3 separate regions of the Homo sapiens genome follow, and regions 2 and 3 are each linked to region 1. The links come from fine-mapping of genetic effects on gene expression. Tissue or cell type: whole blood. Region 1 holds a variant in brackets; each other region holds the start of a gene. Each region is shown on its reference strand, or each on the opposite one. Region 1 has its middle 44 kb from the start of IKZF1. Region 2 holds the start of DOK4 (docking protein 4). Region 3 holds the start of INSC (INSC spindle orientation adaptor protein).

The links. PIP is the estimated chance that this variant, and not a neighbour inherited with it, causes the effect. A credible set is the group of variants that fine-mapping cannot tell apart.
Region 2: DOK4 starts here. The variant in region 1 is the best candidate, but not a certain one, in a credible set for the expression of DOK4 in whole blood (TOPMed, PIP 0.50).
Region 3: INSC starts here. The variant in region 1 is the best candidate, but not a certain one, in a credible set for the expression of INSC in whole blood (TOPMed, PIP 0.65).

What each region holds. Positions count from the first base shown.
Region 1 is chr7:50,259,375-50,262,177 of GRCh38, reverse strand. No RefSeq gene overlaps it. Among named protein-coding and RNA genes, the nearest start is that of IKZF1, 44 kb to the left of the region's middle. The variant G/C (reference allele first, on the strand shown) is at 1,317.
Region 2 is chr16:57,484,786-57,487,457 of GRCh38, reverse strand. DOK4 (docking protein 4) reads left to right here and starts at 965. Exons shown (of 9, transcript NM_018110.5): 1 at 965-1,153. RefSeq lists a silencer at 785-1,084 and an enhancer at 916-1,712.
Region 3 is chr11:15,113,311-15,116,113 of GRCh38, reverse strand. INSC (INSC spindle orientation adaptor protein) reads right to left here and starts at 1,191. Exons shown (of 13, transcript NM_001042536.3): 1 at 1,111-1,191. RefSeq lists enhancers at 1,484-2,017, 2,669-2,718.

The DNA.
Region 1 (2,803 bases):
CAAAGTATAATCATGACATTTTCTACCCAAATAGGCACTGAAAGTTCAAAGTTTCCAGATAAGCATTCAGCTTCTTGATACTTATCTAACCTTAAACTTCAAGCATCCTGATGTTCATTAGATTCAAAACCAGAGAAAGTCAGATATCTCTTTTGTAAAAGAGTGTTTTCTACCATCATTGCTGCTATAATTTAGGAAGAGGGTGCTGAGTATTCTAACTTTATAGTTAGTCATGCCAGTAACAAATATTGTCCATAATATGCTACTAGGAGGGAAAAAGTCAAAATCCCATCAGTAAAAGATTGACTTATAAACAGAACAGGGTGTCCTAGTTATCTGAATACCCACAGATAGAGATCTCTCCCACACTGAGGCCTGCCCATAAACAAGGGCTGCATCCAGGCACGCATCACATGTAGAAAAAGCTGACACATGCTTATAAAGCACAGTGATTGATTCACAAAGATGTGTCCATTCTGGAAAAAAAATAAGGCCCAACTCAATAAAGAATGAAAAAAAAGTTCCACCATCTATTTGTATCATATTTTGTACTTTTCAAAACACTCTCACTCTCATGATCTTACTTGATCTTCCTAATTATCAGGGATATAGGTAGAGTCATTATCATTGCCATGACACAGCCAGAGAATTTTGAGGCTCATACACATTAAGTGGCAGTGATGAGGATCTGCAAGAAGTAGCCCAGGGCTGTTGCTGGGATCCAGGCTCATGCTTTCCTAACTGTGATCTCTATGTGTTAATACTGAAAGAGAAGCATGGAGACAGCAGAGGATGAGCTCATGACCACCATTTATTTTCGGCTTCCTGGAAAAAGAATTGAGCTTTAAGCTACCACCCTCTTCTATTCCTGCTTTGGCCATTTAATACTTATGGGATCTTGAGGCGGAATACTGTAAAATGGAAGGTTTGTGATGATTAAATAAAATAAATATATTAGGTACTTACTATGAATGAAATTTTACTATGTTAGATTTCATCTTTAGTTCCTTCCCTCTAAAGATTTACCAGAACTAAGTAATCCTATTTCTATAAACTGTACCAGCAAGTCAGTCCAGCTACTTCTCTTTCATCCTAGAGATTCCATGGGATGCCACCACTTCTCCTAAACTCTGTTATCTCATGTATTAACTGGCTGAAGATACAGAACTAAAAAGATACAGTCCCTTCCTCAGTGGGGATCAATGCTTATGGTTTCTTTCTTCCTTTTTCTTCTTTCTTTCTTTCTTTCTTTTTTTTTTGACTCTATCAATCAGGTAGGGATGAGCAAACTATGGCAATGGACCACATTTGGGCTA[G/C]TCCCTGTTAGTATTCAATTGTGAACTAAGAATGGTTTTTACATTTTTTTAAATGGTTGCAAAAACCTCAAAACAAGCATACTATTTCCTGACATGTAGAAATTATAGAAAACTCAAATTTCGGTGCTCATAAATAAAACTTCTTGGACATACAGTCATATGCATTCATACTCAATGTCTATGTCTTTTTCATGCTATAATTGCGGAGTTGAGTAGCTGCTACAGAGATTTTATGGCTCAGAAAGCCTGAACTATTTACTATTTGGTCCTGTGAAGAAATGTTTCTTGATTTCTATTCTATGTACCATTCTACATTGTACTGCAAGAGTGTCCAATGCCCTGTATAGTGTTAGCACAAAATATATGCCCTTTCTTCTGCTCTCTTTAGCTTTAGTTTGCTTTTTCTAGTATCTGAAAGCCGAAAGCTGAAAGCCTCAGTTGTTGCTCTAAGACATTGTTATTTTCTGGTATGCATGTTAAAGATGTAAATTTCCCTGTAAGCTCTATTTGAACTGTGTCCTATAAATTTTGGTATGTTGTGTTTTCATTTTAATTCCATTTAAAATATTTTACAATTTCCCACATGATTTTTTTCCTTTGACCCACTGGTTAATTTGGTAACGTGCTGCTTAATTTCCAATTACTTGGGGTTTTTCTAGATTTCTTCCTATTGTGGATCTCTCATTTAATTCCATTATGGTAGAGAATATATTTTATATGACTTCAGTCTCTTAGATTTATTGAGAATATTTTGTGACCCAGCATATGATTTATTTGATGAAGACTGTTCCACATTCAGTTGAGAAGAATATGTCAGTGGGTGGAGTGTTCTACAAAAGTCAGTTAAGTTGAGCTGGGGGAGATGTTGTTCAAGTCTTCTATATTCCTGCTATTTTCTGACTAGTTGTTCTGTCAGTTATTGAAGAGGGTATTACAGTTTTCAACTATTATTGATGAAATACATATTTCTCCTTTCAATTCAGTTTTTGCTTCATGTATTTTTTGGCTGTTTTTAAGTGCATATGCACTTAAATTATATATCTTCCTGATGTGTTGACCCTTTTGTCATTGTGAAGTGTCTGTCATTGTCTCCTATAATTTTTTTTGTCTTAAAGTCTATTTTACCTGCTATTTGTACAGCCATTCCTGTTCTCTCATGGTTATTGTTTGCATGGTATATCTTTCTTGTCTTTTTAATTTCAACAATTGTATCTTTAAATCTAAGCTGTATTTCCTGGTGATAGCGTATTGAATTGTCCCTCAGTTTTTGTGGGGAATTGCTTCAGGACCAACTGTGACTACTAAAATCTGTAGATGTTCAGTCCCTGATATAAAGTGGTGAAGTATTTGTCTATAACTTATGCACATCCTCCTGTATAATTTAAATTATCTTTAGATTACTTGCAATATCTAACACCTTGTAAATGCTATTGTTATATTGTATTGTTTAGGAAATAATAAAAAGAAAAAGGTCTATACACATTCAC
Region 2 (2,672 bases), not on the chromosome of region 1:
TTTGTATATATGGTCTAAAGCAGTGGTTCTCACACATTCGTGTGCATCAGAATCACCTGGCCTGTTAAAACACACATTTCTGCTGGAAACCCCCAAAAATTCTGATTTCATAGGTCTGAGTAGGGCAGGGAATTTGCATTTCTAACAAGTTTCAAGGTGATGGGAAGCTTCTGGTCCAGGGACTACACTTTGAGAAGCCCTGGTGTAAAAAGGTACAGACGTGAAAACCAGAGGGGGGACAGCTCCTCCCCAGAGGAGGCACTGGGCAACTTCTCTTGTCCCTGCCTGGCACAGCTGAGGCCTGTGACTGGGGATTCCGACAGATCAGTGAGTCAACCACTGCACAGGCCCGAAGGGCAGAGGTGAGGGGGTTGGGGGCTGGGTGGGGGCAGCAATGAAGGGGAATGAAGTTTGAGCTTGAGGGCAAAGTCTCAGGGGGACCTAGAATGGGAGAACTGGATGTTTTGAGGGTGGAGAGGAGACCAGGGAAGACAGAGGTGCTGGTGCGGCTACTTGAGGAGGGGTAGCAGAGGAGGTCACTGTGGGGCTGGGAGAGCTGGGCTGTGAGGGCCCAGAGAGTCATGATGGGGTTAGGGGAGCAATGGGTGTGTATGTGATTCCTGAAGAAGTGAAGGAATTGAGATATGGGGGCTGGGAGCTGATGTGGCGTATGGGTGTGTATGTGATTCCTGAAGAAGTGAAGGGGTTGAGATGTGGGGGCTGGGAGCTGATGTGGAGTTCAGCTTTCAGGGGCTGAGAGGCCATGTGGGCTTTGGGGCCCAGGGAGGGGCGGTGGGAATGAGCTGGGGGTACCGGGGGCGACCTGAAGCGGGTGCGGGGGTGCCAGGGCGCCAGGGCAGAATCGCGCGTCCCGCGGCTCGGAGGAATACGGCGGGGGCCGGCCGCCAGGGCGGGGCAGGGGGCGGGGCGCAGCGGCGAGACCTGGCGGAGGGGGGAGCGGAGCGGAGTCCCAGCCGGAGCCCCAGCCGGAGCCCGATCCCTAGCCCTGCGGCCGCGCCTCCCTCGCCGTCCCCGCCTGGAGCCCGGCGCCGCCGCCGCCCTGCCGCCCCCGCCAGCCGCGCCGTGACGCGGGCATGAGCCTGCTCCGCGGCGCCGCTGAGCAGGCGCTCCTGGCCCGGGCCTCGGCGCCCAGGTAAATTGGGGGGCGTGAGGCAGGGAGGGGGACATAGGCCGCCCAGAGCCTGCAAGAGTCTCGGCGACTCCCACCCCTGAGGACCCTCAGTCACTTCCTGAACCTGAGGACGCTCCGTCCCATGGGACCTTCCTACTCTCGGGTGGGGAGCTTAGAGACCCGCCCCCCAAAAGCCAGTGCCTGGGCCCTGAAACTCCCTGCGCTCTCTCCACCCGCAGCTTTCCTCTCCGGGGGAGCCCAGGTCGCGAGCTGACCTCACCCGCACCCACACAAACCTCATCCGAGCAACCCAGGCCCTGCGCTCCCGGGCCTGCCCCCCCGGAAGGGGCATAACCCAGCCCCTGGCAGCTCCCAACCTTCTCTCTGCCTTCCTGCTCCTCCCCGGGGCCTCCTGTTCGCTCACCTCCTCCAAATTCCAAGAGATGATTTTCTGTACCCCAGCTGGCCCCCACTGCCGACCCCCTCCTGCCTATGGGGTTTCTCCCCACAGCCCAAACTCATGGCCAGCTGCCTCCTGTCCTTGAACCTTTCTCCATTGGCCCCCAAGGTCCTGTCCACCTTCTCCCCCAGGGCCCGCAAGGCCCTAGATCCAGTTACATGCTTTCTATTACTGAAAAGGGGCATGAGCCGAGGCTGGGCACCTGGGTGATGTGGCAGAGCAGGGGCTCTGTGCAGCCTGCCTGCCCCAAGCCATGGGGACACGTCAGTTGCTGGGGCGCTTCCGCTTGGATGGAGGGTGTGGGTTGGAGGGGTCTGATGGCCAGGGCAGCGAGGGGCCTGGCAGTATCTCTAGGAGACTCCACTTGGGCAGTGTGAGGTGGGCTTGCTTAGGGCAGGTTCTTTCCTGGACCCTTTCAGAGGGATGTGGCGCTGGTACAGGCTCTTCCTGCCCCCACCCCCAACTCTGATCCCAGGAGCTGTGCCTCCTCTCCCCAGTTGCTTGCCTTGCTGTGCTGGTACTGGTTACTCCCAGCACTTCCCTCCTGGGCAGGGCAGCAGGGCTGGGCATGACCTCACCCCACAACCCTGGCCAAGGTGGGGCCGCCCAACTAGGCCTGGCCTCGATGTCAGCAGCATGCTCTTCCCTGAGGCAGCTCTGAACCAAACTGCGGGTCTTGGGCACAGCTGGTTCTCCAGTAACAACAGCCTGCTGGCCATGCCAGTCAGCGCTGAGACCCAGGAGCTGGGAGCCCACTGTGGCTCACGCACCTCTGGAAGCTGAGCCAGGTCCAGCCAGATGGAGGCTGGTGGTGGTGGAAGAAAGGATGGGGAGGAGGACAAGTCCTGGAGAGAATTACGTGTTCAGCCCCCAAATATTGAGCATCTCCTTCCCACCGGGCACCATTCTGGGAGCTGGGATAGAGCTGTTAACTAGACAGACGAGGCCGAGCCACCAGGGAGCTGACATTCCAGATGTCTCTCTGTGGCCAGAAACAAATGGACAGATGTAAGAACAAGAAAATCCCATGGTGATGTGCGATGAAGACAGCCGCATCTGATGTTGTGAGAGAGGCTGACT
Region 3 (2,803 bases), not on the chromosome of region 1:
CAAGATGCTCTCTGGCTGAGCTCCATGGACAGCCTCAGTTTCAGATTCAATGGAACCCCTCAAAGGCACCACATCACCATCTGCCCTGACCCCCACAGCCAAAGTCCCTGACTTAAAATATTCCCCACTGAGGCCAGTTTCTTGGACCCATTGTCAGAGGTATAATATATAGATTAAAAGGGGCAAAAGTGGGAGGAGGCTAGCGGCTGAGGGTGGGGCCACACCAGGGATACATTTGCGCATATGCATTGAACAAAGTGGGTGCATGTTGCATACATGTCGTTGTCCACAGGTATACATGTTGAAAGTGTGAATGGTTGCATGGCTATCCTGAGAAGAGTGTGTGCAAGACTGGTGCACATGGACAGGAATGTGTGTATGCTGAGCATGTAAGCGTGGGTGCACTGCGAGTGTTTGTGGGTGGCCATGGCCATATGGTCCACTCATCCCCTGGCCTCCTGTCTCTTCTCCTGGTTTAAGAGTGGGGTCTCCCAAGCTGTCTCCCTGACCCTGGTCTAGCCAGATGGGGTTAGTCAGAGCCACATTCACTCCAGTGTTGTGTGAGGGCTCTGAGCTTCTGTCCTTCTCCAAGCCCTGAGAAACCAAAGCTGAATGACCCACAGAGAAGACACCCCAGCTGGGACAAGTCAGGTCACCTTAGAAAGCCTGAGTTCAGATAACACTCCCTAGCCCCAATTTCTGCCTTCCTGGGTTCACACTGGCACATCCACTCATCCACATGTGGACTGGCTCAGCCCACCTGGGGGCCTTCCTGCCACACACACAGGCATTTCCACAGGTACAGACACAGTGCACCCAGGGCAGCAGGTGCCACACAGGCAAATACCTGTGGCCCACTCCAGGCCACCACACACTCTGACACACTCGTTCACCCACACTCGCACCCTGGGGCACATGCTAGAAAATTCCACATGTGGACATCCCATCCAGACACACTCCCTCACACTGGCGCAAGCTCCCCTTCACAAGCACTCCCACTGACACACTTACACCTACTATCCAATTAGTGACAAACCTGCACTGTTCCCAACTAGGCTAGCAGAGGCATCACCAGCCCCCTGAATCCAGCTAGGGGAGCTGTCTACTTACTTAGCGTGCGAGACAGGCTGGTAGTGCGAGCGGCCAGTGGTGGCGGGGCGCAGCTGGAGCTCCAGAGGCCGCGCGCAAAGTGGCCGCTCTGCCGGCCCAGCCCGAGAGGCCGCCCCTGGCCCCCGCCCCACCCCCCGCCCCGTTCTCCCCCGCCCGCCCTCTCCGAGGCGGTCGCAGCCTCCCAAGGACCTTCCACAGCAGCGCGCTCCCTGCCAAGCCTTGGTCCCGCGTCAGCCACGGCTGCCTGCTGTCTCCGCGGGACTACGAGGCTATTTCGGTGCCCCTGGGGGGGGAAACATGGCCCTCCCTCCCATCTGCAGGAGCGCTGGAATGGGGACGCGGTCAGGCCTAATTAGAGACCGGGCTCCCCCGGGCCAGGCGGCAGGCACCAGGGTGATCGCCCGGGAGCCGCGAAGCCGTCCAGGCGGGGTCGCCCACAAGGTGCCCCGCATGCCAACATCTGGAGAGGGGAAGGGAATGTGCCGCGATCGTTTCCCTTGGAGCTGAAACAAAACAAGGAGGGATTTGGGTGCAGTTCACTTGCTAGGAAGGAGGAAGCCACCCAGCTTTGATAGACCCCAAACGCCTAGAATGAGACGGTTTATTCACCGCAGGTGCTTCCCTCTGGAACCTTGCTCACACACACCTAAGTCACCCTCCACATCTTGGACCTGCCAAAAATGACGAGGGGTTGTTGCAGAAACTCCTTCTAACTTCGGCACATAAGATCAGACCCCACCCCCCACCCCCCACCCCCGTCCTGGACTCTGTCAAATAGCTAAATCTAGAGGAACTTGATTCCTACCCAAAAGCTCGGGAATGTGGCATTTTTGACCTGGAAGAAAGCTTCCAGATCATTTCATACAACTCCCCCTCCCCCGCCTCCGCCATCTTGCTATGAGGCTCCCAGAGCCCAGAGAATCTTGACCTATTCTTGGAGGTCCTCAAGCAAAGGCAGCCCCTGGTCTCCCTTGAGCCCTGTTCCAAAGCTTGAACTCTCTTACTGACAGAAAGATCTCCTTGACATCTAACCTAAATCTCTCACATGCAAACTATGTCAATTTGCTCACAATATGTATTCAGGGAGAAGGAGCTCAACTCAGTCCCCATGACAAAACGACCACGCCGAGGTCCCACTGCAGCCTTCTCTTCCTTAATGCTAATAATCTCTATTTCTTTTTTCAGGCTCTGGCTGAAGCTAACTGCTGCTCCCTGGACTCGAACACACACAGTAGCTCTCTGATATTAACTCTCCTCCTCAGCTCTCTGGGGGCCCAGGGCTCAGAAGGTGGCCAAATCATTCCTCTCAGACAAGCCAGCTTCAACTCTACCCTCCAGTCATCCAGAACAGCCTGATTCTACTCCCCAAGTTCCCTGAGAGGGGCCTCAGTTCCTGTTTCAACAAGTGCTGTCTAGGGCTGGGGACAGGGCTTGGTGCCGCCTGGCTGGGCATTACCACTGAAACCACAGTCTTACAGACTGTTTGCAGAATCTTCTCTCTGAGTCTGTTTCCGGTAGGGCAGGTGGTATGATAAGAATAGTCTCAGCCGGGAGTGGTGGCTCACGCCTGTAATCCCAGCTCTTTGGGAGGCCAAGGTGGATAGATCACAAAGTCCGGAGATTAAGTCCATCCTGGCCGACATGGTGAAACCCCATCTCTACTAATAATACAAAAATTAACTGGGCGAGTTGT